4 linked regions of the Homo sapiens genome follow. The protein of the gene in region 2 interacts with the protein of the main gene of each other region in a pairwise test. Each region holds a gene or a part of one and is shown on either strand. Other genes may lie near its edges. The genes, in order: CTAG1A, HEMK1, POU2AF1 and SHOX.

Evidence for each region.
Region 1: the proteins of HEMK1 (region 2) and CTAG1A interact in binary tests that used the Homo sapiens proteins (3 or more experiments, as listed by UniProt).
Region 3: the proteins of HEMK1 (region 2) and POU2AF1 interact in binary tests that used the Homo sapiens proteins (3 or more experiments, as listed by UniProt).
Region 4: the proteins of HEMK1 (region 2) and SHOX interact in binary tests that used the Homo sapiens proteins (3 or more experiments, as listed by UniProt).

What each region holds. Positions count from the first base shown.
Region 1 is NC_000023.11:154,580,255-154,587,329, reverse strand, and holds CTAG1A (cancer/testis antigen 1), read right to left. Parts: upstream 2,198-7,075; 5' UTR 2,124-2,197; coding exon 1,855-2,123; intron 1,179-1,854; coding exon 1,044-1,178; intron 805-1,043; coding exon 666-804; 3' UTR 514-665; downstream 1-513.
Region 2 is NC_000003.12:50,564,548-50,572,525, reverse strand, and holds the start of HEMK1 (MTRF1L release factor glutamine methyltransferase), read right to left. Parts: upstream 3,005-7,978; 5' UTR 2,952-3,004; exon of another isoform or gene 1,725-2,951; intron 1,624-1,724; exon of another isoform or gene 1,596-1,623; 5' UTR 1,422-1,595; coding exon 1,194-1,421; intron 817-1,193; coding exon 725-816; intron 450-724; exon of another isoform or gene 412-449; coding exon 318-411; intron 1-317. UniProt on the Homo sapiens protein: N5-glutamine methyltransferase responsible for the methylation of the glutamine residue in the universally conserved GGQ motif of the mitochondrial translation release factors MTRF1, MTRF1L, MRPL58/ICT1 and MTRFR.
Region 3 is NC_000011.10:111,376,271-111,384,040, forward strand, and holds the start of POU2AF1 (POU domain class 2-associating factor 1), read right to left. Parts: upstream 3,006-7,770; 5' UTR 2,908-3,005; coding exon 2,892-2,907; intron 1,583-2,891; exon of another isoform or gene 1,580-1,582; coding exon of another isoform or gene 1,504-1,579; intron 1-1,503. UniProt on the Homo sapiens protein: Transcriptional coactivator that specifically associates with either POU2F1/OCT1 or POU2F2/OCT2. It boosts the POU2F1/OCT1 mediated promoter activity and to a lesser extent, that of POU2F2/OCT2. It recognizes the POU domains of POU2F1/OCT1 and POU2F2/OCT2.
Region 4 is NC_000023.11:626,522-633,794, reverse strand, and holds the start of SHOX (short stature homeobox protein), read right to left. Parts: upstream 3,005-7,273; 5' UTR 2,898-3,004; coding exon 2,621-2,897; intron 1-2,620. UniProt on the Homo sapiens protein: Controls fundamental aspects of growth and development.

The sequences.
Region 1 (7,075 bases), on a different chromosome or scaffold from region 2:
ACAGAATCTCGCTACATTGCCCAGGGTGGCCTCCAACTGCAGGTCTCAAGCCATCCTCCCGCTTCAAGCCTCCCACAGTGCTGGAAATACAGGTGTGGGCCACCATGCCCAACCCATATCACATGCTTAACAGTGATATGATAATGCTGGTTCTATGCATCTATTCAAGTACGTTTTCAAAGAATTTTTCCCAAGTAAAAAAGCTCATATGTTCAATGAAAACAATTTGGGAAAAAATTTAATGCTGACCTGGAAAAACATTATATATGCTACTGTCATATATTTAACATATAAATGCAAGTATATTGAGGAAAATATTCTAAAATGTCCACAGTAGTTAATGCTGAATGGCGGGACCCAGTGGCTTTTCATTTTCCCCCATTTCCCAAATTGCCTCCCGTTACCTTGTGCTACTTCAATCTGTGAATCCCAGAGCCTCCCCTGCAACCCGAGGACAAGGGCATGCAAGTCCGAAGGTGCCTTCGCTCGCCGAAAAGAGACTCAGACACGGAATCGTAGCTCAGTTTTATTTTCTACAGAAACAAACATGTAAGCCGTCCTCCTCCAGCGACAAACAATCAGGCCCCCACAATGAACTGGCCACTCGTGCTGGGACCATTCCCTAGGGGAGGAGGCATGACCTAGGAAGGGGCGCCAGGCTGGGCTTAGCGCCTCTGCCCTGAGGGAGGCTGAGCCAAAAACACGGGCAGAAAGCACTGCGTGATCCACATCAACAGGGAAAGCTGCTGGAGACAGGAGCTGATGGAGAGCTGCAGTTGGCGGTGGTCTGCAGCAGTCAGTCGGCTAAATGTGAGGGGCAGAGAACATCACGTTAAAGGCGACACCTCTGCACCCATCTCCCTGGGCTCCCTCGGGTGGCGGCGGGCCTGGTGTACCAGGTCTCTGTTCTGAGACCCTGTGCTGGGGTGTTCCCAGGTTTCTAGCAGCCTGACCGTGGGGTGTAGGCGGATCCCAGCCCCCACCCTGCCACGCTGTGACCGCCACCCACCCAGGCCCCATCCCTGTCCTGGTCCTGAACTGACATAGTCAGTATGTTGCCGGACACAGTGAACTCCTTCAGAAGCACCCCTGGCACGGGAAGCGGTGGGGCATCCTGGGCCAGGCTCCTGCGGGCCAGCTCTGCTTCCATGGGTGTCGCGAAAGGCATGGCGAGGTAGCTGGTGGGGGCCCAGTTAAGGCATCCTCTCCTAGGACTTGGCCTGTGGCTCCGGCCTGCTGCTTACCCCAGGCCAGCTTCCCCCTCCCCCACTCCCCCACCCCTCCCCCCTACCCCGGATTGCCCAGCCCATCCCCCCCAGGCTGTCTCCCCAGGCACTGGCCCAGTAGCACACCCCACCCAGCTGTCTTGGTTCCCCACTTTCCTTTGCTGCACCCCAAGCTGACTCCTCCATGCCCTTACAAGACCCCTCCCCACCCTGCCCCCTGTGGCATCACCCGGCCCCCTCCTCATCACTCGACCCTCCATCCCAACCACCTCCCGCCACCCGCTCCCATCTTGCCCCCTTCCCCCCACCTCCTGATCCCCTCCTACACCTGGGTCCCCCTATCTCCTGGCCCCTGCTCCCCTCCCCGCATGACCCGGTGCCCCTCACCCAATCACCCAGCCCCTCTCCCCCACCCCCACCCCCTCTACCTCCCAGCCCTTACCTCCTCCCCTCCTCGCAGCTGGCCTCTCATATCCCCACCTCCCAACCCCCACCCCCACCCCCACCCAACCACTTACTCGCATCTCCCCCGCCTCCTCCCCCACCTGGCCCTGCCCTCCCCATCTCCCGGCCCCCACCTCGCCACCAGAACTGTCAGAACAGAACAGAACAGAACAGAACAGAATACAACTCAAGCAGGCGGCTCTCCGGCCCCCTGGCCCCGCATCTGCAGCATCCATTCAGCCCTGAAGCCGCGCCGCCATGCGGACCCCGCGGGGCGCCTCCTCCCGGCCCCGAGGCCCTTGCTGCCCCTGCGCCCCGGGGACCTCTGCCGCCCGTGGCACCCGCCTCTCCTGGGCCGCCAGCATTGCCCCCTGGGCCATCAGGAATGCCAGGGCCTCCTGGGCCATCAGCATCGCCCGTCGAACCCCCTGTGCCCCGGCCTTCGGCCTGCATGGCTCCGGAGCCTCTGCCCGGCTCTCAGAGAGAAGGTCAGGGCCCACGAGGATGCGGAGGCAGAGAGGCTGCAGGAAGTTCCGCCCCCTGGCGTGAGATGGGCAGCCCGGGATCCTCAGGGCGCCTGCGCACAGGGGCCCTACTTCCGGCCCTGGGAGACCCCGAGTGAGCCCCGGAGCACGTGACCGGTTCTCACCAACCCCGCCCCTCCCCAAGAGAGCCCGGGCCGGAAGGTGGCCGCAATGCCAGCTTGGACCCCTCACCCCTGAGCAGCCGGCTGTCCGCCGGACCCCTGTCCCGGGAGCCCTGCAGGGAGTCAGGCACTGCGGGGCCCAGCCTGTCCCATCCCCCGGGTCTCCCTCACATCGAGGAGCAAGACGGGCCTGGGAACACGGGGCCGGGACTGTGCGGCCATCGTCCCGGACCCTGCCTGCCCTGTCCGTCCTTGGGGGAGCGCCCAGGACAGACCCCGGGGGGCAGGCCTCTAACTGGGCTCAGCAGCCTCCGTCCCTGTCCTGGTCGCCCAGCTGGTGGGGTAGCTGGAACTGCATGTCTGGTGGGCGTGGCCTCGCGCCAGCCAAGGTCTCCCAGGCGCCAGGTCCAGCCAAGGTGGACGGGAGGGCCCAGCGGGACCCGGGGCCGGATCTCACTCCTGGGTTCAACGGGTTCTGTCCCTGTCCTAGTCGCCCCGCCTGGTGGGGGAGCTGGAGCTGCGTGTGGGGTGGGTTGCGGGTGGCCTCCCACCAGCCAGGGGCTCCCGGGCTCTAGGCCTGGCCCAGGTGGACAGGCGGGACCTGCTGGACCTGAGGCTGGGTCGGGCCTGGCTCCTGGGTTCGGCAGTATCAGTCCCTGCCCTGGTCGCTCTTGCCTGGTAGGGAGCTGGGAGGTGACCCTGTGTCTGCTCAGTGGTGATCTATTTGTGTGTCTGGAAGGGGGTCAAATCCACGGGACAGGTACCTCTAGAGGCATGCAGGGGTGAGGGCGGCACGGCCCCGGGAGCTGAATGTCTGTGCCAGGCACACCTGTAGCAACAGGAGGTGACCAGACAGGGCCTAGCCCTGAGGAAGGGGGAGGTACTGAAATCCAAACCACTCTCCCCCACCTTCCAAATCCAGGAATCAGCAGCCTCTGCACCTGGGAAAAGCATATTGGCACTCATGTGGAAACTAAAAACGTTGATCTTTTGGAGGTAGAGCAGAATGATGGTTACCAGACGCTGGGAAAGGTGGGGAGGGTGGGGAGGTTAATGGGGACAAACATATAGTTGCATAGAAGGATTAAGTTCTAGTGTTTGATAGCACCGTAGAGGGACTATAGGTAATTATTTATTGTATATTTCAAAATAGCTAAAAGATAGGAAATGTTCCCCAAAAAAAGAAATGATAAATGCTTGAGGTGGTGGAGATCCTAAATACCCCGACTTGATCATTACATCGTGTGTGCGTGTGCATGTATCAGAATATCACATGTATCCCATAAATATGCAGAGTTATCATACATCAGTTAAAAATGTTTTTACTTACAGAAAAGAAAAATTCACCCAAGCTCTTGCGTGTACCTCCAGTTTATTATTTTCACTGCTGTATTTCATTACATATATTTCATTAAATGATGAATTTTAAAAACCAGAGAACACAACTTGTTAACACCTGGAATAGCTGAAAATCAGACATAACCCGGTTAGTGATTGCCATCCTTCCTGTCGTCCTCTGCTCAGTCTCCCCATTCTCAGACAGAGGCAGGCTAAAGTTCTTACCTTCAACAGGTCAGGGAAGGGAGAGTAAAGTGCATGTGACCCTGTCTTAGGAAGCAGGAAGACAGAGGGAGGGTCTCCGGGTCCCCATTATTTTCCCGGCCTATTATCCTCAGATCAAGTCAAGAAAGGAAGTCCTAACTGACTGAGAGATTCCTGGAGATACTGCCACTGTCCTGGAAGTCTCAGCCAGCCACTGGACCGGAAATCTCCATCAATATTTCAGCCAGAGCAACGTCTGCCACTAGATGGCATCAAACTCCAGCCGGGAGCAGGACAGATTTGGATGGTCCAGCGGGCTTGCCTCATTCATTTCATTAACCCCACAGTAACACATTTTCACATTGTATGCGATTGGATTTCTTGGAAACTACCTATTACATTACGGCAGAGTTTTATAGTCCTCTAATTTATCCATTCTGCTGATGATGGGCAGGCATTTGGATAGTTTCCAGCCCTTGGCTATGAACATGCTTGTACAGGTCTCTTGAAGCACATGTCCAAGTTTTTTTTTGGAATTGCTGTATCACAGCCAATACATATCTCGAAATTTACTAGATAATGCCATGTTTTCCCAAGTGGTTTGAGCCAATTTTCGCTTCCACCATAATGTGTCAGCGTACATACACATAGCTCAACATTCTCATCAATATTGACGGTACTAATCCGTTCTCGCATTGCTATAAAGGACTACCTAAGACTGAGTAATTTATAAAGAAAAGAGGTTTAATTGACTCACAGTTCTGCAGGCTCTACAGGAAGCATGGCTGGGGAGGCCTCAGGAAAGTTACAATCATAGCGGAAGGCAAAGAGGAAGGAGGCACATCTTATATGGCCAGAGAAGGAGAAAGAGAAAGTGAAGGGGGAGGTGCTATACACTTTTAAACAACCAGATCTTGTGAGAGCTCAACATCACGAGAATAGCAAGGGGGAAATCGACCCCCATGATCCAATCGCCTCCCACCAGTCCCCTCCTCCAACACTAGGGATTACAATTCAACATGAGATTTGGGTGGGGACACAAATCCAAATCATATCATTCCACCCCTGCCCCCTCCCAAATCTCATGTACTTCTCACATTGCAAAATACAATAATCTCCTCTCAACAGTCCCCCAAGTCTTAACCCATTTCAGCATTAACTCAAAAATCCACAGTCCAAAGTCTCAACTGAGACAAGGCAAGTCCCTTCTGCCTATGAGCCTGTAAAATCTAAAACAAGTTAGCTACTTCCAAGATAAAATTGAGGTACAGGCATTGGGTAAATACTCCCTTTCCAAAAGGGGGACATCGGCCAAAACAAAGGGGCTACAGGCCCCATGCAAGTCCAAAACCCAACAGGACAGTCATTAATTCTTTTTTTTTTTTTTTCCACTACAAAATAATTTATTCGAACACACAGCTACAGCGCGAGACTCCTATGTACAAGCACATTGACGCTCCTGACTACCCTCAACTAGAGGACCCTTTTCTTCCCCCTTGCCTTGCAGACCTCTTCTATCGAATCTTTCATGTACTGGATCTCCTCGGCCAGGGAATCCGCCCTCTCTTGCAGAGCCTCGTTCTTCTTTTCCACCGCTTTGCACTCACCAGTGAGGACCTCCTGCTCCACCCTCTTCTTCTGGCGATACCTAGTTCCTGCTGTTTGGTTTTGCTCCATTTTTTTTTCAGCTTCTTATCCAGTTTCTCACCCTTTACTTGTGCTGCTACCATCTTCTCTCCAGGAGGGTCATAAGGTTTGGGGCAGGCAGAGCCACAGAGGACACCTGGAGATGGCGGGCTCCTACTCGGAGAGCCCCTGGAGGTAGAGGGAGAGCCCAGATAGGACTCTGGGCTCATACAGATGCCACTATCATTATCTGAGGGGGCGTCTTCCTCCTTTGTGCAGTGAGGGATCTTGGAAATGTAAGCAGTGGAGTCTGGCTTCCTAGCTCCTTCAAAGATATCCACTTCACTGCCCAGCTCTAGACTAAAGGAATAATCTGGAGTGGAGGACTGGACCCCTGGGGAAAGGGGAAGAGGTTGCAAGAAGGTGAAGGGGGCAACCTGGTCGGGTTAAACTTTCTGGGAGATGGCAAATCGGGTTCACCATCTGGGGGGGGCTCCTTAATAGTCTCCTGGACTGGGGGGGCTCCTTAATAGTCTCCTGGACTAGGGGGGCAAAGAGATCACACGAGTCATCCAACGTGGCCAGAAGCTCGTCTGGCATGGTTTCCAGGTCATCTATACCCAACAGGGCATCAAAGTCGAACTCCTTCAGATCAGTTTTCTCCAACATCCAATCTGTCCCAAAGAAAGCATCCTCCTTGCCATCGTTGGAGGCACTGACCAACCCATCCACAGCCAGCCACTCGGAGGAGTCTGCCTTAGCCTTGTCGCTGGAGAACCCATGAGGTTTGAAGTGCTTGGCCACCTCCAGGTAGTCATCTAAGAGACCTAGGCTTTCTTCAGTCCCCAAACCTGACTGGTCAAGGGGGGACATCAAGCCCCCACCAACACCTCGCTGCTCAGGAAGCTCATCTCGGTCATGGTGCAGTGCTTTGCTGGAATCAACGAATGTGCTTAATTCGAAGGTGTCTTTGTCGGTTACAGCAATGCTGCTGCTGAATGCTGTGAGAAGTGCTACGGCTTAAGCCGCCGGTGGATGCCACTGCAGAGCCTGGTGCTGCTGCCACCGCTGCAAAGGCCAAGGCTGCCACAGGCACTGCTGCCCCTAAAACGCCATGGAGGCCATGGACCCTGCAGGCGGGGAGGAGGGAAGGTGCGCACGTGCGGAGGAAACTACATCTGTGGGCGGGCGGAGCAGAAAATCGTCATTAATTCTTAAAGCTCCAAAATAATCTCCTTTGGCTCCATGTCTTACATCCAGGCCACACTGAGGCAAGGGGTGGGCTCCTGAGGCCTTGGGCAGCTCCGCTCCTGTGGCTCTGCAGGGTACAGCCCCCTCGGCTGCTTTCCTGGGCTGGTATTGAATGTCTGCAGCTTTTCCAGGAGTATAATGCGAGTTGTCAGTGGATCTATGATTCGGGGGTCTTGAGGATGGTGGCCCCCTTCTCACAGCTCCACTAGGCAGTGCCCCAGTGGGGACTCCAACCCCAGATTTCCCTTCTGCACTACGCTAGTAGAGGTTCCCCAGGAGGGCTCCGCCCCTGCAGCAGACTTCTGCCTGGACATTCAGGCGTTTCCATACATCCTCTGAA
Region 2 (7,978 bases):
TGGGTGAGCCATGGGATGGCTCCCAGAGAAATGGCAGAACAGGCTAAGTACTTGGGCAGCACTATTTGAGGCACTCTGGGCCATTGCCAGACCTAGAGGCTGGGTTGATAGCTTGGAACATAACAGTCAAGGGGACCAACAGGAATCCTCTGTCCTCTGGGCTCTGCCAACACAGTCAGAGAGGAAATACATGTCTAGAAAGGCACTGTCCCTGAAGTCATGGGGCCCCAGTGCCCCCTGGAGGAAGCCTGGGGTAAGACTGGTGCCCTGAACTCCACCATCATCCTGATCCTGCCTTGCCCTGGTGGCACACCTACCTCTGTTTCTGGCCGAGGAATAAACACTGGGGGCACCATCCTTAGGCTGAGCCCCTGGAAGTCCCACTCTCCAAGGATGTACTGCACCGGCATCCTGCAGAGGGGGCAGCTGGGTGGTCATCAGGGACAGAGCTAGGACCAACAGGACCATGCCTGGGTTGAGATACCACTTGTGGCCAAAGGTATCAGGCAAGACCATGTCTCCAGGGCCTTGGGACTCCTGAGGCAAAACCCTCCCTCCCTCCCTTCTTCCTATTCAGTACCCCGGCCCCACTCTTGCCACTCCTGCACCCCAACACCTCCCTAGTCCTTGGACATTCTCCTCCTCCCTGAACTTGGTGGGGATAGGGGAGGCTGGACTGCTGCTCCCTGAACACATCCTTCAGGTCTGATCCATGGGTGCTCACCTCTGCAATCGACGGCTACTCAGCTCCCGGATACACTGTAGTTGCTGAGAGGTCAAGGGCTGGGTCCAAAGTGCCGGCCTCAGGCTCTGAAACTGTCCCCACAGAGAATATAAGTGGCTGGCTCACTGGGCCCAAGGCCCCCAACCCAGGTGTCTTATGTGGATAATGCCTGCCCAGCACTGGTCTGGAGGCCCAACCCTCTCATCATCTGGGCCCAGAGGGGGCAGCATCCTGCCTAAGGTTACACAGCTAACACCAGGCTTCCAGGTGTCTATCCCAGAACACTTAGGCAGAGATATATTCATTCATCCAACAAACTGTTACAGTGTGTGCCAGGCGCTAAGACGTTCCTTCAGAAAAATCCCATCAGTCTCAGCTAAGCACTCTTAGTGAACAGAAAACCTGGATATCCCTTCCCCAAGTCCTCCCTCCTCCCTCTTCCTGTCCTCTTGACAACACTAAACTTAACTGTTTTGGCTCCAAGGACATGAGCCACGATGTACTCACTGGATTCCCGGGCCTCAGGGATACCCCTCTTCTCAAAGACCCCAGTCCAGTGGCTGACCAGTTCTATGGCACTGGATAACCCAGCCAGAGGTGGTTGGGGTTGCCATGAGCTGAAGGCCCAGCCCCGGGTACTTCCCCTCCTCCCTGGGCCAGACAGGAGGGCCCACAGCATTCGGCCCCAAAGCTCCATGTCTCAGGGAAAGGTTCTCCAGAGTGCTTCCAGGTTCCCAAGTCTGCTTTATGATGTCAGCTGCTGAGGTGAGTGCTGAGAGTGGCCCCTGGACCCAGCTGGGTGGAGATGGAGAGGTCACAAGCTCTGGTGCCCCAAAATGGCTCTGGTCCTCAGATATAGTTGGTTGCCACCCTGGGAGTGAGAGGAACCAGGAAAGCAGGTGAGCCTTGTATGACACCCCCCCTTCTACCAATACATTGCCTGAGAATAGTTGTGCTCTTGCTCTGACACCCCCTTGACTCCATTTAGAGCCTTACCCACCTATTTGATCATTCTTGTCTTGGCCACTTACGTTTTCTTCACATTTTTAGCTGGAGTGGGCTGAGCCCATAGCTCAGTCTCTGCTAATAAACGGGTTGGTGGTAGGTTAGGGCACATATGTGGGGACAGGACAGATCTGTGTCTAACCTAGCGTGTGTGATCTTGAGCAAGTCATTATTTCTGATTTTCACTTTCTTAATCCATAAGATGGGGGAAAATCACACCAAACCCATGGCAAGCAATGCATTAGTCTATGAATATCCAAGGCCTGGGAGGCAGCTCAACACACAGCAGGGACCAGATGTTACATGATCTTAACTGATGTTACAAGAGGCAGATGATTGCCTTTAATTGGGAGCTTTGAATCTGACATTGTGTGTGTACTGTCATGGATGTACATGCTGAAAATTTCCTCCTAATTTAACCTATAATCCGGGACATCAGCGTAAACCACCAACTAAAAAATTTACAATTGTATATTTAAAGAGGTCACAAGCAAGTTTAACTGAAGGTTTAAAATCAGCGGTCCCCTTTGCTTCCAGATAAAAGTCCAAACTAGCGTTTATTAAGCACCTGCTAAGTGCCACATCTTCAGATACAAGTAGGGTCAGAGAAGGGAAGCGACTTGCCCAGCGTCACTCAGGTAGAAACTGTCCCAGGCAAGCTGGGCACGGTGGCTCACGCCTGTAATCCCAGCACTCTGGGAGGCCGAGGTGGGCGGATCACGAGGTCAGGAGTTCGAGACCAGCCTGGCCAGCATGGTGAAACCCTGTCTCTACTAAAAATACAAAAAATTGGCCGGGCATACTGACGCGCACCTGTAGTCCCAGCTACTTGGGAGGCTGAGGCAGGAGAACTGCTTGAACCCAGTTCAAGCAGGCGGAAGTTGCAGCGAGCCGCGGTCATGCCACTGCACTCCAGCCTGGGTGCCAGAGAGAGACTCCGTCTCAAAAAAAAGAAAAAAAAGACTGTCCCAGGCAAGACACGAACCCGAGTCCACCAGACTCCAGAAGCGGCTCTTGCACCAGTGCGCCGTCCCAGGAGCCAAGGCCCGAAGTCAGAAGTGTAAACTCCCTCACAGCTACGCACCGCATTGTTAACGACCCAGATGAGGCCCCCTCTCTCCAACCCTGTTTCCCCATCTGCACTATGGAGAATGGTACCGGCCAGGTCTCCAGGCGGTTGCAGTCGAAACACCCCGTTCCGATCCCCACCTCCCATGCATACCTGCCTGAAAGGCTGCCCCACCCACCCACCAGCCGGAGAAGCTGCCCCGAACTGGACGCCCGGACGTGCGTGGCCCGTCGCGCGCTCCCTCGGACGCCCCGCTTCCGGGGTCGGCGCCTTTAAGAAAAGGCTCGGGCGGACGCCGTAGCCCAGCTTCAGTGTTCCTATCGCTGGTGGGTTCCTCCCAGGAGACCCCTGCGGATGGGTGGGGAGGCTGTGAATTCCACTCCCTCTACGCTCGCAGGCCTGCATACAGGAAAGTGCGGGGATGTGTGTGGGGTTGACCCTTGGGGGCCCGGACCTGCCGGTCTTCCTTAAAATCACAGCAGGGATTTGGCTCCAGCCCAAGGGGATTGCTCCGAGCTGGCGTTTAGGAACCAGGCCGGGAGGTGTGTGGGCGGAGCCCAGTAGCCTGCCGGAAAGGGGGCGTGTCACCAGAGGGCCCGGGTGTTCCGGCGGGGACCAGATGTCCGGGGGCGTGGTCTATCTTAGCCTGGGGGCCGGGTGGAGCTGTGCATGGGCGGGTTCCAGTGTTGAAGGCTGGTCCAACTTTGGGGTCCAGTCCCAGTGTCGTGACCCTACCGAGGTCAGTGGCCCGAGCCCACCAGGGGGTCGGCCGACTGGCGGCCAGACCCCAGGGGCCGCTCTTTTACCGATTCGAATCTTGACTCTATTGGCAACTCCTCCAGGTGTTGGGACCTCTGGACCTCAGTTGCGCCTTCTATAAAATACTCGGCAGCGTCTCGCAAAGTGTGTCTTGTCAACATCTCCCCACCAGAAAGTACTGTTAACTAGAACACTGTTAACTACTTTTTTTTTCTTTTTTTCTTTTTTTTTTTTTTTTTTTTTGAGACGGAGTTTTGCTCTTGTTGCGCAGGCTGAAGTACAATGGCGCGATCTCTGCTCACTGCAACCTCGGCCTCCGGGTTCAAGCCATTCTCCTGCCTCAGCCTCCCAAGTAGCTGGGATTACAGGCGTGAGCCAACACGACCGGCTAATTCTGTATTTTTAATAGAGACAGGGTTTCACCATGTTGGTCAGGCTGGTCTCGAACTCCTGACTTCAGGTGATCCATCGCCTCGGCCTCTCAAAGTGCTGGGATTACAGGAGTGAGCCACCACGCCCGGCCTTAAACTGCTATTAAACATGCTGTTTCCCTGCCTCCTTCCCAGACCGGGAGACACAGGGGCGTTTGCATTTGTACCAGGCTACCCGGTGACTCCCATAAACTACTTTGAAAACCGGCGGATCAGGAGTATCTGAGGGCTCCTTCCCTGAGCTGATCATGCCGTGGATGGAAGCTATTGTGAGGGTATATGTAGACTTGCCTGGGTCGGGGTGCCCAATAATAAATCCACCCCACTCTCAACTTCTGTAGACGAAGATTCCCCATCTTCGTCTAGAACCCTCACACCAGAGGACCCGTCTGAGTAGAAAGCCAAGGTTCAGGAAGGGAAAAGCAGTTTCTTCAAGGTCACAAAGTCAGCCAGAGTTCAGTGCAGGCCCAAGGACTCCCAGTCCAGTGCTCTCCCCAAGTCTCCTCTGTACATCCATCCGCGTTTTGGGGGCTTGAGTCTGTCCTGGCACGGGTAGCTGGCAGGGGTCCCGAGTTCTGGCCCGGAAGGGCCTGGCCACCCACTGTCCTCCGCCCAACTTCGGCGCAGGCCACGGGGTGAGGGTAGTCTCTAAAAACTGCGACCAGGTTCTAGGCTCCCTCTGGGGGTGGAGCCAGACCCGAGCGACAAGCGAACGGTCCAATTCTGGGCGGGCTCTAGGCCCGACAGCCAATCGGAGGCCGGGGGCGCGGAGCGTGCAGGGAGGCAAGGCGCTGTAGCTTCGGGGATCCCCCGAGGCTGCTCGGCCCGGCCCCACCTCCGCCGTGGGTCCCGGCCCTACCCACCCTAGCTCAGGCCGGCAGAGCCAGCGCTCGCGGATGCGGCTGGTGCGCAGTAGCGGGCCTGGCCAGCGGCTCGGGGCTTGCAGGGAGGGCGGATCTCGGGTCGGACCCGCAGCCCCAGACGCCGGGCTTGGGGGTTCCCCCCGCCCCGGCCTCCTGCCAGTCACTACCACCCCTAGCCTCTCCAACTGAGCTCGGCGCCGGGAGAGGATTAAGTAAGTGCTGAGGTCACTGCTCCTGTGCAAGAAGGGAGGCATCACAGGGTCGCGGAGGCGGGCATGGGGATTGGGGCAGGGAGGACTGAGAGACCTGGTGGAGAACAGCATGCGGGTTCTCGAAGGTCGCGGTGCCGACCCCTTTTACCCCGGTTTCCTTCCCTTCCCCTTTGGACCCTGAGGCAGGCCTGGAAAGTGGTCAGTAGGGCCTCTTCTCTCCTTTGGGAGGCGATGTTAACAGAGCCCCAGGGCACGAGTTAAGGGTTTGGCCCAAGGTCACGCCCGGGATCAGTTGCAAAGCCAAGAAAAGAACCCGGGACTTCCTATGTGCCCAGATGTGCCCAGCCTAGCTGGAGGGAGAAGGCAAAGAGGGATGAGCCTTTCTACCCCATAACCCTCTGCCAGCCTTGCCCCTTCCTCAGGGACCATCAGAGGTGTTTACACATCTCACACACGCCCATGCATCTGCACAGGGAGGCAACCCCACTAATGCCCATGAACCAGCACAGGGGGATGTATGCACCCACGAGCTAGGTATCCCTCCTCTCCCTAGGCCGTCCCATCTGCAGCTTGGCTGGCACCTCTTCCCACCCCACCTTAACCAGGGCCCTCTGCACTGGGCAAATCTCTCACCCTCTGCTTCCAGGGGAGGAGGGTAAAGGAAGAGAAGGCACCCACACTGGGAGCTCCATTCCTGCCTCGCCTTTCTCCTTGACCCTAGCAGCCCCTCTATTGTTGGTGGGTGGGGAGGGCAGTCCAATGTCCCCGAGAGCCTGCGGAGAAGCCCCGCCAGAGAACCAGAGCCTCTCTCTCCTTCTTGTCTTCTGGTCTTTCCACATCAGCCTCCACCCACACTCCAAGCATAGTCTGGACCATACAGTGGACTGGGTCCAGGGGCTCCCTTGGCTCCCCTTTGTGACTGGGTTGGCCATGGGGAGAAAATCTAACATGTAGTGGATGCTTACTGTGGATGGGGGTTGTGCTGAGCTAAGTCTTTCTTCGACACCTGTTTGTTCTGCCATTTCTGTAACCCCATGACCCTGTGGGGATGTTCTCAATATCCCCACCTTAGACTCAGGAAAACGGAGACACAGAGAGGTGGAGTGACTTTCTAGGGATCACTAGTTAAGCAGCTGAGCTAGGTTTCAAAGACAGGCCTGTCTGACTCTTGGGCAAGTGTTTCCCTCCAGGAAAGGAAAAAGCTGTGGTATTTTTTCCCCCAAGCAGGATGAGGGATGTGGGAGGCAGGGAATGAGGAGGTGGATATGGGGAGGTGGGGGATATGGGGACGCAGGTTGAGGGGAGTTTTTGATCAGGGGAGGGAGACTTTTTCTTTCAAACATCCCCGCTGCCTTTCATATCTTCCAGGTTTGATCACTATGATCATCTCACCCACAGACAGAGGATGCAGGGCTTCATTTTTGTTCCCAAAAACAGGGGCACCGTAGATACGTAAAGTATGTGTCCTAATGTCTCCTGAACTTACCCTCATTCTTGCCCTCAAACCTTTACCTCCCCAGTGCTTTCAGAACCTAGAGAGACTTCATCTCACTACTGAGCCCCTGTCCTTAGCCTCATGTTTCTTATTCTTTCCTTTCTAGCACCCAGGAAGGCAGGGGGCTCCCTTTATCCAAGGAGGTGGCTGTGCAGGTGGCCACCACAGGTGGCAGGAACCACAGGCTGGGGCACTCCGGAGTCAGGAGTGAGTGGGCAGGTTGACTGGCATCAGGCAGCCTCTCAGCCAGGGCCCTCTCCGCATCAGCATGAACTCCAGGACCGCATCTGCTAGGGGCTGGTTCAGCAGCCGCCCACCCACCTCTGAGTCTGACCTGGAACCTGCCACAGATGGGCCAGCCTCCGAGACCACTACCCTCAGCCCAGAGGCCACCACCTTTAATGACACCAGAATCCCTGATGCAGCTGGTGGCACGGCCGGCGTGGGTACCATGCTTCTGTCCTTTGGGATCATCACGGTGATAGGCCTGGCTGTGGCCTTGGTGAGAGCTGGGGTAGGCTGGGGGAGGATAATCAGTGTTTAGATTTATAGAGAACCTAATCAATCAGAAGACAATCTGGTTGTTGTTATTGTTGTTTTTGAGACAGAGTCTTGCTCTGTCATGCAGGCTGGAGTGCAATGGCTTGATCTCAGCTCACTGCAACCTCCACCTCTGGGGCTTAATCGAGTCTCCTGCCTCAGCCTCCCAAGTAGCTGGGATTACAGGTGTGAGCTGCCACGCCCGGCTAATTTTTGTATTTTTAGTAGAGATGGGGTTTCGCTATGTTAGCCAGGCTGGTCTTGAACTCCTGGCCTCAAGTGATCTGCCCCCGTTGGCCTCCCAAAGTGCTGGGATTACAGACATGAGCCTCTGTGCCCGCCAACAATCTATTAATGAGAGTGCAGTCCTCCTCTCCTGCAGAGATTTGTCCACTGGGGCCCAGAGACCAGAGAGGCTACGCTTCCAACTGGAAACAACAGAAAAGGTTCTTGGGAATACATGGTGTCTTGAGCTGGGTCATGAAGGCCACATAGTAGTCAAGGAGTTCCAAGTGGAGAGTCCTGATGGGCAAAAGTTTGGAGGCAGACAGAGGGTTCTGTGAGCAGCCAGCAGGACAGTTAGGGCAGTGGATGTGGGGTTGCAATAGAAGAAAAGGCTTAAAGGTGGTTGATGTGGACCGTGGGCTGCAGAGTCTGGGTAAGATGATCTGTGCATGGGAGGCTGTTGGCAGTGAACATTCATTTATTCACTTGGCAATTATTTACTGAGTACCTGCCCTGGACCAGGCCTTTGGAACCCAATAGAGGCTGGGAAGACAAGGTCCTGCCCTGTGGTTCTTACAGGGAGTGGGAAACAGATAAAAACCAAGGGTTCCAAGGGAAGCCTGCAGGGACTGACTTGGGGACTCAAGCAGGAAAG
Region 3 (7,770 bases), on a different chromosome or scaffold from region 2:
ACAAAGAAAGAACTAAGTTGCACAGGCAACTTTCAGACCTGTCTCCCTCCAAGGTTCCTGCTATTTCCACTACACTGTTACTAGCTGGGGAGGGATGGTAATTCTTCACATGTGCACCTGACCAGCAGGTCCAAGTCCAGAACCCAGGGAGAGAATCTACAGATGGAGTGACTTCTTCATCCAATTGGCCCATCAAGCAAATCTCAAATCCATTGGTTGGGGCTTGAAGATTTCTACTTCTCTGTGCCAGCAGTTCTGGGCTTTGTCACTTTATGCTCTAATCTTAACCAAAAGCCAGGGTTCACATTTAGTCCACAAACTAGGGTCATGGGCTAGGTAGGGAGGAGGTAACATTCACAAAGTGAATGTTTTCTTAACCCTTTCCAGAACCCCATAGTACAGTCATTTCAGCTCATGCCTCGAGGGTGTTTTCTGAAAAAAGAAAGTGCCCTTTCAGCACTCTTGGTGTCTGATTTCAAACCCTGCCCTTCCATCGGGTGACTCTAAGTGGGCTGACATGCTGCCCTGTTTTTACTGATTTTCCCACACGGTTTAGTCACCCAGGTGCCCTCTATACCACATACTTGGGTTCAGGCTAAGGGGGTGGGTCCAGAGCCCAGGGTCTCTCCTACTTTTCCTTTAAGGCTTAAAGGACAATTCAAGATAATTTTGATTTGTGTTCATCTGAACATGTGGAAACATTCACCCCAGTTATTCCATTGATGAGCTTACAATGTGGTCTCCCTTACAATGGAGTTTTGATCTATCTGACTGGTCTCCAGGGTGTGAGCAGGAAGCATGCCCTCCAGCATCCCCTTTAAAAAATTTGGGGGACAGGTGCAGTGACTCACACCTGTTTGGGAGGTCAAAGCGGGTGGATCACTTGAGTCCAGGAGTTCGAGACCAGGCTGAACAACATAGTAAAACACCATCTCTACTAAAAATACAAAAAAAAAAAAAACAGCTGGGTGTGGTGGCGGGCACCTGTAGTCCCAGCTACTAGGGAGGGTGAGGCGAGAGAATCACTTGAACCCAGGAGGCAGAGGTTGCAGTGAGCCGAGATCGCGCCACTGCACTCCAGCCTGGGCAACAGAGCAACACTCTGTCTCAAAAAACAAACAAACAAACAAAAAAAGTCTGTTCATCTCTTAGAAGGAATTAGAAATGAAAAAATGTACTACAGAACCAAGAGGGGAGAATATGGCAGATGGTGAATGCAGGGAAGCAACTCATATCTCAGAGGCTGATGCAGACAGAGCAATGAACATGACTTCGGTGGCACCTCACTTACTAAGGATAGATCCTCAGTGTGGATATGATTTTTACCCCCACTTAACATACAAAAAACCTAAGGATTGAGAAAAAGGAAAGTGGCTTGCTCATAGAAGGTAGGAGCTGAGGCAAAACTCCTTCCAGGGGCTCACACAAAAATCAAATGATTCAGCCCTGAGTGAAAGGGCACACAGATGCTTAGGGGCCCCCAGTAAAAAGATGAATGCCCACCTGCTCTCATCCACACAGCACTCACAACAGGGTCAGCTGCCATTGTCCCAGAAAGGATAGGCTGCCGCTGCTCCATCGCCTGTTGGGAAGAGTGGCGTGCCAACAATTCTTGAATATTCCTAGTTATCTTGGAAGGAGTCCATAACTCTCAAACCCAAATTAAAGCTCATTTCTCTTTATTTTTTTAAAAAATTGACCTTTTGATATCAAACAATGGTGGGTCTTCACAACCTGAGAAATTTTGAAATCACTCTTCTGTGTTACTGGTTAATCAGCTTAATTCCAGAGAAATTTACATAAGACATAAAGCAAACAATAAATTGGTGATGACAGTGTCACATTTTAATCAATGAAGTTATATTTTCCGAACTTTAGTGGATCCAATCAAGTATCTTTCCATAAAATAAAAACATTCCCTAATATATCTTCTTCTGTAAATCTAGATTCTCTTATATTAAGCTTGCTTGAGGCACAGCATACTAAAATTAATTAAAACGAATTTTAAGGAACCAAGAATCTTTAAGAGAAAGACAGAGCAATTTTTGGTCATTCTTCTTGCTTGAGGAAGTATAGAACTAGCCCCAATAAGGTTCAACTCTCAGAAGCTGATGAGTTGACGCTGTTTACCTCGTGAAAAGAATGTTGTAAATAATCTGTATTATTTCAGTTATTAGTAAGGTAAGTCGCTGTTTGGTCCACATAAAGGAAAATAAAGTTCACAATTGTTTCATCCAACTCCGGGGATAAAAATCAAGGCCAAAGATAAACCCACTGCATCCTTTGCAGTGGGATGGACAAGCCTTGTCACAGAAGGGGAAAAAGAATGACGAAAGGCAAGACAGTGGAGCAAGTGAGGACACGCTTCACCGAGCCAGATCTCCACTCCTCCCAGGGTATCCACAGGGACAAGTCACACCTGGCAGAAAGCTAAGTCACTCAGCTAGAAACAGGCCCAGGGAATTCAACAGAAGGCTGAAGAGCCACTGCTTATGGAAATAAAGCCCCTCCTGTAAAGAACTGCATGGCTTTTCCCTCCCAACCCCAAACCCATCCCACATCTGGCTTTTGTTGTGTGAATCATAAACTGCCCTTTCTTCACCACAGTGATTCATGCACAGAAGCGGAGGTACCCTGAGCCGTCCCACCTTGGAACACTAGTTCGTTCCCCTCCAGCCTGGAAAATCAGCATCACCTCTGACAGGCTGGTTTCTCCACCAGGCTCCATCCCGCCCACCTCCCCCCTCCCTGCTCCGGGGCTTGGAACCCAGACCCCCTCCCCCCGTGGCCCCATCACCTCCACCACCAGCTCCCCAATTCCAGACCAAGCTGTGATCGCCCTGCCCCGCTGGCACTCGCTTGGGTCTGACAGCCACAGCCAAACCACTTACGTTTTTGCCAGAGCATGGCCTGTGACAGGATGTTGCCTTTTCTCTTTGAAGCCGACAGTTTGGCTTCTTTAATGTGAGACCGGGGTGTGTTTTCCTCCAGTGGAGCCACCGCTTGAGCTGAGGCTGTTTCCTGGGCTTTTTAAAGGCCTGGGTTCCCGCTGCGTGGGCCGCGTCATCACATCCTCCCACCTCAGGCACCGGTGCAACGTTTCTGCAGCCAGGCCGCCTGTCACCCCACTGTGCGCGCCCCAGCGGCCCCGGCCCAGAGCGCTCCACACTCGGAGCTAGCCAGCTGGGACAGAGCAACAGCGCAGCGCGGGCAGCCACAGCCTGCACCGGCCCCGCGGGGACCTGCTGTGTGTGGGTGTGAAGGTGGTGTGGGGCAAGCTGTGGGAACCCCGTGTCAAGCCCTCCCCAGGCCAGTGATGAGCCCAAAAGCTCCTCTGGAAAACGTTGATCTTTGCACGGCGCCCATGCAGGCTTCCAGGCCACCAGGGCATGGGCAGGACTCAGCCCGCCATGGGCGCCTGCTCAGCGGGAAATGCGATTCCCAGGGGTCACTGGTTCTCAACTGGGAGGAAACACCTGTCATCTCTTCAAGCCTCAGTAAACAACCTCCTCATTCTTTCAATATTGCTTTTCTGTTTATTCCATTTTGAAACACAGTAGCCCCTCCCCTCGCCCCCAGCCACCCCCAAAATGGCAAGGCTTAATCATGCTGAAATATGGGGGCGCTGGCTCTGATGTCGGCTATGCCCACGGAAAAAGAGGCCAACCCTCAAGGAAGGAAGGAGAACATGCCCGTGCTCTTTGACTGGATCTGGGCTTGTAGGCACAAGATGAACAGAGCCTCTTTGCGAGTGCCCACCCACTGATAACAGGAAGCTTCTTTAAGTAAGTCATGGGCTCACCATCTGGAAGTGTAGATGGTGTTGGCTACCGGTTCCTTCACAGTTTGGAAGCCTTCTGCCACTGCATATCTGAGGTCCACATGCTCAGGCTCCAGGGACTCAGTCAGTTTGGGGTCAAGACCCCTTGGCACACCCCCTAGAGCAGGTGTGGGGCCTTGCTGCTCTGCCATCCATACTGCCTCAGAGCCATCTTGCACCACCTAGACCTGATCATGCTATCCCCTAGCCTACAAAGCATTCACCTTCTCCCTTCAGCCACAGAGCTGGAGGCCTAGAAGGCCTCCCACAATCGAGCCGTTGCCTTCCTTTCCAGCCTCACCACCAACTGCCCTCCTACCACTGGTCCCAGTGCCCTCTAAGCACCACCAAACACCCATGCAATTCCCTGCCTTTGACCTTGCCGTCCTCTCTTGCCGGAAGGACAAACCCCCAGCCCAGAGAATACTTGTTCGTCTTCTCAGATCTTAGAGCACTTTGTTCATTATGTGATGGTGAATTGTCACATGACTCTGACAGTTTCTCAAGGAGGTTTCATCTTTGCCTCTCCAGTGCCCCACACAAGACCTGGAGCATAGTGACCCCCAATAAAAATTCATCTGATAAAGTTATGAATTACTGTCTCTAATCGGTTGCTGATTTGAGGGCAGGTCTTGAGGAGAAATGCTGTCAACATTTTATAAATGATTCACTTAAAAGCCAGAGAAGGCTGTCTCCTGGCTGCCTATAAGCCCTCCCCGCAAAGCCTCTGAAGTTCAGGACAGTGGAGGCCCCCATGCTGTGGTGGCTGGCAGCCCACACCCTGGCCTGGCAGGGGGCAGCATCTCAAGGCCTTGGGCTGCGCCAAGGAGTTTCCATGAGAAACAGAGGCACATCCCTCAGGCCTGCCTCAGTCACAGGAGACGTGGGTTCCCATGAAGGCTCTGACACTCACTCACTGTGTCCCCTTCAACAAGTCACATAACTCTTCTAGCCTCAGTTTCCTCATCTATAAAATGAAGAACCAGTTCTGTGAGTGTCTCACAGGTTCGTAGGAGGATATGTGGCCTCGCTGGTCCTCTCTCCCACGGGTCTGTCTTTTGTCTCTTTTGGTCATGTCTTATTCTCTCCAAGTCCGTGAAATTCAGAACTTTTTCTTATTCATCTCAGTTTCTCCCCACAGGCCTAGCATGATGATTTCCACAAAGTAATAATATAACCACTTACTGTGCAAGAGGCTCCATGTTAAGCCTTAAATACATTACCTAATCTAGTCACCACAACAACGCTGCAAGGAAACGTCTACCTGTATTGTTCAGAGAAACAAACAAATGCTTAGGGAATTTCATCTGTCCAATGTCACCAAGCTATCAGGTTATAGGCTGGTGCCAGACCCAAGTTCATCTGACTAGAGCCAGAGCTCTAAATCATTAAAATAAAAGATATTTATTAAGTTGAAAGCAGTAAATGCCAAGTGTCAGCCATGTTTGTTAGTAGTAATATAGGATCATTATTATTAAAACCTGAAGCAGATCAACAGAAGCTATATCCCCCGGAATAAATTTCTGTCCTCTGGAAAGAGGGAAGGAAAAGGTGAGACCCAGAGCTACTCTGACAAATCAGATCTTGTACAGTGGCAGAAAAACAAAATGTCAGTGGGCAAGCCCACCATCATGGCCAGCGATAAACCCATCACCTCTTATGGCCTCACAGCTCATGAGGCAGATTCCAGCTCATTTCTTCCAGCAAATACCCTGCATATCAGTGACCACATACAGGCAGATGCTTTGGAATCAAGACTTGATCGAAACAGCAAATATTTTCCAGGAAAACATTTTCTGTGACTTAGAATCAAAAGTCAAACTGCATGGCATAGTTCAAAAGAGGCGACTATGTTTATGCAATGTCTCAAGAAGTGGAAGAAAAGAAGAAAAAATCTGTGAACATGGTCCAGATGACTCCAAATACAGGTGTGCTCACATTTTTAAAGAATCTGATATACAAACATCAAAACTTCTAAAATAATTTATTAAAGCGCACTGATTCATATTGTGAAATAAATTTTAGCTTTGCAAAAAGATTCACCATCGACTTCATTTCTTCCATCATTTAATAAATATTTACAGAGTGCTTATTACATGTCATTACCTCTGCCAAGTCTTAATCTTTTCTTTTCATTTAGCCTTTAATCATCTTCATTCTCATCATTTTTGATTTATGAAAAGCCCCTATCTTATTTTGCTCAGTAATTTATTTATTCATTCATCTACTTTCCCCCTCATTTTCCATGTCTATTCTTTTTCCTGTCCCCTCATACCCCCATCACCCACCCACCATTCCAATCAGGGCAACTCTTTTCAGTGGTTGATGCTGAAGCTTTTATTTGTAGACATTTGTGCCTGTTCTTATAAGATCTGTATTGTTTGGCATGTATAGATTTTTAATTTATGTAGGTGATGTTATATTACACATTTCACGCTGTTTCTTATTTTTTAATTCAGCACAGTGTTGTAAGATCTATCCACATTGATGTAGACATTCTGTGCACCACTTTTAACACCTGCAAAGTATTCTATGGTGTGTGAGCGCTGCATTTCACTTAAGCAGATTGTCTCCAACTTCCTCTTCCACAAACAAAGCATTGATGAACATTCTTATATGCATCTTTTTTCAGAGGCATGTGAAAATTTCATTGAGGTTATATGCCCAGAGGTGGAATTACTGGGCCAAAGAATAGGTGTATATTTAATCTGACTGAATACTAATCTGTCCAAGACTTCCACCAGCAGTTCATTTTTCCACCAGCTTCTCATATTTCCACTTTACCACCAAACCTGACATTATCCAAGGTCTAAATGTTGCCAGTGTGGTACATGTAGTGATAGCAACAGTGTAGTGTGTGTGTGTGTGTGTGTGTGTGTGTTTTAGTGTAATAGTGTAGTGATAGTGTAGTGGTTTATTTTACATTATAATACTAATAAATGGAAGCATGTCTTCATATGCATGTTAACCCTATGGAGTTTCTCTTCAAAATACCTCTTCAATCACCTCTTGGCCTTTTGGCTAAGATCAAGTGTAGTATTTGTTCTTGCCAGTTTAAAATGTCTGTTCATTCCTTTGCCAATTTCTGTACCAGGATTGCCCTTTTTCTTGTTGATCAGCAGAAATTCTTTGCACATCTGTGTTCTAGATGTACAATTCTAGATATTTTCAGTTTTACTCAACACAAATTTCTTCACTCTTGTCATCTGCTAACTTTATTCATAGTGTGCTTTTTTTGAATAGAAATACATACTTTAGGTACATGGACCTATTTTATTTTACTGGTCTCGTTGTTCTTGTACCTTAGTTTTTATTGTTATTTATTATAGTACAGCTTAAATTTTTCAGATAAGTCTATCAAGTTCCTCAAAAAATTCCAGCCAGCATGGTGGCTCATGCCTGTAATTCTAGCACTTTGGGAGGCCGAGGCAGATGGATCACCTGAGGTCAGGAGTTTGAGACCAGCCTGGCCAACATGGCGAAACCCTGTCTCCACTAAAAATACAAAAATCAGCTGGGCATGATGGTGGGCACCTGTAATCCCAGCTACATAGAAGGCTGAGGTGGGAGAATAGCTTGAACTCAGGAGATGGAGGTTGCAGTGAGCCGAGATCGCACCACTGCACTCCAGCCTGGGTGACAGAGAGAGACTCCCCAGCACCCCCCCCAAAAAAAACACTGAAATTTTTATTGGTTTTCATTGAATTTGTAGATTACTTCAAGCAAGAGTAATATCATTATAAAATTAATTTGGTCCAGCTGAGCATGGGACAGCTCTCCATCTCTTCAGATCATATTCCATGTTTTTTATTATTACAGTTTTTAAATTTTCTCCGCAGAAGTACAGTATATTCTTAAATAAGCTAATTCTCAATTATGTTATAGTTTCTGTTGATATTGTGAATGGCATCTTGTTTTTTATATAATTTTCTAGTTGGTTAGTGATGCTA
Region 4 (7,273 bases), on a different chromosome or scaffold from region 2:
CCTCGCTCCCCTTCAACCCAGGGCTGGTGGAAGTGGCATCTCCAACGCCCCTCTGTTCCTATCTCGGGCCTGCTGAGCACAGATGAGAAGCACGCGATGCCCTAATGAGATGTCCCTTGCTGTCAAGGGTAAGGGGCTGACATTTGGAAGTTTAGTCTGGAAACAGTCTCAAAGGGGCACAGGCAAGGCCGCTGCAACCAAGAAGCTTGCAAAGCTGACAAATCCAGGGTGTCTACAGGGAACGGGGTAAATACTAGCACCCTGTTCTGTCTTTCTTCCTTCCACGATCCACACCAGGGCCCTCCCACCCCACCCCGAGCTACATTCAGCGCTGGACGCTTACTCCAACGTGGATTTCACATTCTGTTTCACCTCCTATCAGACACGTGCCTGCAAGAACACTCCATTCCTTCCCCCCAAGTGAATCGTTTCCTGGAGACGACCCCAGCTCTCCCTCCTTCATTTCTCTAAGTCTGAACCCCAGGAATTGAGCCCAACTGACAAACTGGTCTTCAAAGTCCTCAAACACCCGCAGGCTTTGCAGAACCCACGGGCTCCCAGGCTCGGCGGGGACACGCTGTTCCCAAAAACTCCAGGCTTCCACGGTAACCTCAGACTCTCCCCTGCCCTCCAACCTCGATTTAACTTGGATCTGATGAATAAATAGTAGCCTGGGTGGCAGTCCTGGCCCGGGGGTCTTTCTGCACCCAGCCAAGGGGAAAATGTAACGGGGACTCTCTGTCTCCTCTCCTGTGGCCCTGGGTCTTTGGCCTGGTCTTTATTTTCCTCTCACTTTCGAAAGGTCTGGAGGACACTTTGCTCTCCCGGGTCCACGGCCAGGGGGAGAAGAGAGAGTTCAGAGGAGCAAAACGGTGTCTGCGAAGGACAACCAAAAAGCAACCCCACAGAAGCGGCCGCCGGGCGCTGCGAACCCTCTTAAATTACACGCAGGCCCTCAAGCGGCTCCCAGCCTTGCGTCCAGGAAGGCCAACTCTCTGTGTATGAATTACAGTGCCGGGTGCCCGCAGCAGTGTGTAGGGAGGAACTCCTCTCACTGTCAAAGGCAGGCTGGGCTCCTGCCTCTTAGACGGTCAGAAACCGGGGACTGCTTTGTAAACCGTAGCCACAGCTTTCTGCTTCGACAAAGTCAGGGCCTTGGGAAGCTGCCTGGTGCCTCCTACGAATACAAGGGCTATTTCCCGGGGCCACTCCACACCCCAAATGCAGGGCCCCGGAGAGCAGGTAGCCCCAGAGTCTTAGGAAGAATTACCTTTGGGGCATTCACCCTCGCACCTCAACTCTGCGAATCAGCAAAAGCCGAGGCTAGATTCTCTGCGTCTTTGTAATGAAAACATAACAGGCGTCCATAGCCGTCTCCAGCTGTGCCCCGACACAGCCAGCCCATTTTATTCTTAAGATGTATGCCGCCCAGTTGTCGTGTGTGCACAGAGATCCCCGGGGCCAGCCCCTCTCTCTGAGCCTCTTACTCCCCGATTTCCACCACGGGACGACCCACCACTGAGGTCTCAGGAGGAAGGGCCAGAGGGGAGCTCCCCCGGGCCGCGCACAACCGGCTGCGCTCTGACAACCTTGACTTAGGACGCGCCCGCGAAGCCGCCAGCTTCCCCGGGGCCCCTCGCGCCCCATCCAGATCCCGGCCACCTCCGCTCACGGGAGTGGTTTTTATGGACCCAACAGCTTTCGCCAAGATCAAGCCTCGACGTTCAAAGGAAAACAATGAAATAATAATGAAGGGTTCCTTAAAGGAAACAGAACCGAGCTGACCCGGGGCCTTCCCGTCTCCTACCACGCAGCCTCGAGTCTTCCCGTGATCTCCGGGGGCCCGGCAGGCGCTGAGCGCTGGGAAGGCGCGTGGAGACGGCTCCTCTGTGCGTCTGGGTGACCGTAAATACAAGGCAGACAGGCAGAGACAGAAACACACATCCTAAGCCGTCAGGACCCAGGCCGGGCGCGGTGCCTCACGCCTGTCATCCCAGCACTTTGGGAGGCCGAGGCGGGTGGATCACCTGAGGTCAGGAGTTCGAGACCAGCCTGGCCAACATGGTGAATCCCCGTCTTTACTAAAAGCACAAAAATTAGCCAGGCGTGGTGGTGCATGCCTGTAATCCCAGCTACTGGGGAGGCTGAGGCAGGAGAATCGCTTGAACCCAGGAGGCAGAGGTTGCAGTGAGCCGAGATCGCACCACTGCACTCCAGCCTGGGGGACAGAGCGAGACTCTGTCTCAAACAAACAAACAAACAAAAAAAGGAAAGGAAAGAAAAAGAAAATGAAAAAGACATCTCAGGCCCTACGGCTTCAGGCACAGCCACCCGGATCCACCCCAGCCCGGGACCTTCCCGTGTCGGTGCCCACGCGCGCGGCCCCCGCTGCGACCCTCCCTGGGTCCCCCCGCACCCCGCTACCCACCACCCGCGTCTCCGGTCGGGTCCACTCCTGCCTTCCTTCCTTTCTTAGGCAAAGCCTGACGGCCCGGGCCTTACCCTGGCGAGACGGGAGCTGCAAATGTGCACAGCGAGGGGCGCGCGGGGCCGACTCCGTGGCGAGGAGGCGCCGAACCCCAGGAGGGCCCCCCTGGAGCCGGAGCGCAAAGGAACTTACCTTCTGCCACTCTCGCGGTGCCGAATTCTTTCAGTTTCTCCTTGTCATTGTCTACGTGGTCCTTGAACAAATGCACCGGGCAGTGGCCGCCGCCCTCCGTGATGTCCTGGAGGCTGGAATCCGACGTCCCCAGCTCCCGGGAGCGCGCCAGTCCGCTCTCCAAAACTTCCCGGTACGTAATGGAATCCTTCTTACCTCCGCCGCCTCCGCCTCCGCCGTTACCGTCCTTGCTTTTCTGGTCAAAAGACTTGGATACAAAAGCCGTGAGCTCTTCCATGGCTGGGGCCGGGGCTGGCGAGCAGCCGGGGCTGGTGGATGCGCGCGTCTCCCCGCGCGGAGAGGACGGCCCGTGCGCGCGGGTGGATCACCAGCGCTGTTATTTACGCCTTTCCATTGGAAATCTCACTATTTATACGCGGCGACCTCGCCCAGCCCCCCATGCGCTGCCTGTCTGGTGCAATTACTGGTCTCCGGGCTCCGCGGCGGACGCACGCAGAGACGCTGTGTCTCCCCCACCCCCCAGGCCGGCAATTGGCTTTCTTCTCATTTCATCACTGTTTGGCGTCCGTACACCTTGGTGCGAAGGGGGAAAGATCCCATTTTTGGAAGGGAGAGCGCGCGCGCAGGAGGGGGGCGCAGGCGCCCGAGCCCCCCACACAGGTTACCCGCGTTCTCTCCGTGGCCGGAGGAAAAGCAAACTCCAGTTTTCCTGCAGAGAGAGACAGAGAGACAAGGAGTTCACGGCTGGAGAGAGGAGGGTCCCAGTCGTCCGGCCGCCCTCGCTCCCGGGAGGAGCGCAGAGCCCGGCGCCTGGATCTTTCCAGGAAGCGCCCGGGTCGCGCCGGGGTTGAGATGGCGAGGGGGGGATCCGGGCGCCCCGGGGACGCACGATCTTGGGAGAAGATGAGCTCCAAGTTGGTGGCGGCGCGCCCTTGGATGGAGAGTTGGTGAGATGGAACGCGGCTGGAGAATCCCCGAAAGTGAGAAGAAGGGGCCGGGTGTCCCCAAACCGGGACGCGGGCGCTTGGGAGGCGGCGGCGGCGGAGGCCGAGGATCCCCGGGGCCGCCTCCCGGGTCTCCAGCGCCCGCAGAAAGAAGCCCAGGTCCCCGGGAGATCCGGTTCGTAAAGATCTATATTCTTTCCGCCCGCGCCAGATCCCGGCGGACCCCGGCGCGAGGCCTCCTCCCTTAGCGCCGCGCTGTCACCCTGGCGTCTGGGGTATTTACCGGGTGAAAAAAATACTTGTGTTTTTGGTTTTCATGGTGGGATGCTCCTGCTCGCTCCCTCCCGCCTCTCGCTATTGAATGTGCTTCAGGGGAAGCCGGTGCTCGCCATCGCGACCTGAAATTCGTTTTCCAAGTCCTGGAAACCAAACGCGTCACGGTTCCTGCCAAGGACCTTCTGCAAATAAAGTGGGGCACCAGGAGGCCCGGAGTCCCCTTCCTCCCGTAACCCCACGGCGCATCTTCCTCCCCGGCGGGGCCTGGGGACCCAGGATGACAGCTGAGCTGTGAACTTGTGTGAGATGGCACAGCAGTGGGGGGACATGAGTGACGGTGGGTTGGGGTGTGTGTAAGACACAGAAAGAGAGAGACAGACAGGGAGAGGCAGAGAGAGAAACGGAGAGACGGGGAGATGGAGAGAGAGAGACAGGGAGAGAGAGAGATGGAGAGAGAGAGAGAAAGAGAGAGACAAGGAAAGACAGAGAGAAAGGGAGAGACAGAGGGATGGAGACAGAGAAAGAGACAGAGGGGGAAAGACGGAGAGAGATGGAGAGAGAGAAAGAGAGACACAGACAGGGAGAGACAGAGACATGGAGACAGAGAGAAAGAGAGTCAAGGAGAGACAGAGAGAGATGGAGACAGAGAAAGAGACAGACAGGGAGAGACGGAGAGAGATGGAGAGAGAGAAACACAGGGAGAGACAGAGAGAGATGGAGAGAGAGAAAGAGAGACACAGACAGGGAGAGAGAGGGAGAGATAGAGAGAGAGAAAGAGAGACACAGACAGATGGAGAGAGAGAAACAGACAGGGAGAGACAGAGAGAGATGGAGAGAGAGAAACACAGGGAGAGACAGAGAGAGATGGAGAGAGAGAAAGAGAGACACAGACAGGGAGAGAGAGGGAGAGACAGAGAGAGAGAAAGGGAGAGACAGAGAGATGGAGAGAGAGAAACACACAGGGAGAGACAGAGAGAGATGGAGAGAGAGAAAGAGAGACACAGACAGGGAGAGAGAGGGAGAGACAGAGAGAGAGAAAGGGAGAGACAGAGAGATGGAGATAGAGAAACACACAGGGAGAGACAGAGAGAGATGGAGAGAGAGAAACACAGGGAGAGACAGAGAGAGATGGAGAGAGAGAAAGAGAGACACAGACAGGGAGAGAGAGGGAGAGATAGAGAGAGAAAAAGAGAGAGACAGACAGATAGAGAGAGAGAAACAGACAGGGAGAGACAGAGAGAGATGGAGAGAGAGAAAGAGAGACACAGACAGATGGAGAGAGAGAAACAGACAGGGAGAGACAGAGAGAGATGGAGAGAGAGAAACACAGGGAGAGACAGAGAGAGATGGAGAGAGAGAAAGAGAGACACAGACAGGGAGAGAGAGGGAGAGATAGAGAGAGAAAGAGAGAGACAGACAGATGGAGAGAGAGAAACAGACAGGGAGAGACAGAGAGAGATGGAGAGAGAGAAACACAGGGAGAGACAGAGAGAGATGGAGAGAGAGAAAGAGAGACACAGACAGGGAGAGAGAGGGAGAGACAGAGAGAGAGAAAGGGAGAGACAGACAGATGGAGAGAGAGAAACAGACAGGGAGAGACAGAGAGAGATGGAGAGAGAGAAAGAGAGAGACAAGGAGAGACAGAGAAAGAGATGGAGACAGAGAAAGAGAGAGACAGGGAGAGATGGAGAGAGAGAAAGGGAGAGACTGGGAGATGGAGAGAGAGAAAGAGCGACACGGACAGGGAGAGAGAGGGAGAGAGAAAGAGAGAAACGGAGAGACAGAGAGATGGAGAGAGAAAAAGAGAGACACAGATAGAGATACAGAGAGAGACAAAGAGAGGCAGAGACACAGAGAGGGAGACAGGGAGGGGGAAGAGAAAGAGGGAGAGAGGCAGAGACAGACAGAGAGGGAGATTCGGAGAAGGGTCTCTGGCTTAGAGCAACTTTCTGGGTCCTCAGAGGCCGGGTAACTTTTCTGCTTCTAAAGGCCTCCCCATCTCTGCCTCTGCTGGGAAACTGGGTCCCCAGGGACTGCGCCGTAAACCTCTCACAGCTGCTCACTGTCTCCCTACCGAAAACCCTCCGTCCTCCCAGCTCAGCTGTCTTCTCCAACCCCAAGGACCAGGCTTTCCTGGGGGGTCCCGTGAGGCCCAGGCTTTCCCCGACCTGAGGTTCCTTCTTGGGCCGCAATCTGGACCCCTTTGTCTAGTAGGAAACTCCGCTCTACCAGGGTGTCCGAGCCTCCAGGAATGAGCATGGGGACACCAGTCAGGAGCTGTGTGGCTATTCAAGGCCCCTCGGCCTCGGAGAAAAAGCAAAGGCCCTTTTTCAACTGAAGCCCCAATTGTAATTCTCACTGCAGACAAGTGGCTTTGAAATCACGCACGTCCGATTCATGGCACACTTTCTGCCTTTCCAACACCCCGCTTTTCCTAAGAGTTTCTGGCTACGCGAAAGAGATCTCATCTTTCTGTAAAACTCCAACTCTTCCTGTGGGATGAGCACGGAGGCGGCCTCACCCCTCTCACCTAAAGACCTTTCCCTTCTCTGACCAGAGCTTTTACGTTCTCTCCCTGCCCTTCCCTTTAAAGACAGGCAGGAAACACCCAGCGTTTGAGTGCTTGATAACATGTTAGAAATCCAGACGAGAGCTTTTTCTACCCCACACGTTTTTCGTTGCCAATTCAAGACGCTGTCCGAGAGGCCGCAGCTCCAGTCTGCAGAGTGGGTGGACTGTATGAAATGTTTTGCATTGACATTTTACAGCAGGCGGCTGCAGGCAGAAAGCAGGGTCTGCACCTCTCTTGGCCTGGGCTGTGTACAAGGGGGTGCTTGTTGGAGGTTTTACTGATGCTTCCCTGAGACAGGGAGAGAGAGAAAAAGAGAGAGAGAGGAGAGAGGGAAAGAGTCACAGAGATAGAGAGACAGAAAGACAGAGAAAAAGAGACAGAGAGAGAGGAGAGAGAGAGAGACAGAGGTAGACAGAGATACAGACAGAGAGAGAAAAAGAGAGAGGAAAGAGAGACACAGGTAGAGACACAGAGAGAGACAGAGAAAAAGAGACAGAGAGGAGAGAGACAAAGAGAGACAGAGACAGACAGAGAGACAGAGACAGAAAAAGAGAGAGAGGAGAGAGAGAAAGAGAGACAGAGATAGAGATACAGAGACAGAGAAAAAGAGAGGAGAGAAAGAGAGACAGAGGTAGAGACACAGAGAGAGACAGAGAAAAAGAGACAGAGAGAGATGAGAGAGAGAAAGAGAGACAGAGATAGACAGAGATACAGAGACAGAGAAAAAGAGAGAGAGGAGAGAAAGAGAGACAGAGACAGAGATACAGAGAGAGGAGAGAAAGAGAGACAGAGACAGACAGAGATACAGACAGAGACAGAGAAAAAGAGGAGAGAGAGAGACAGAGGTAGAGACACAGAGAG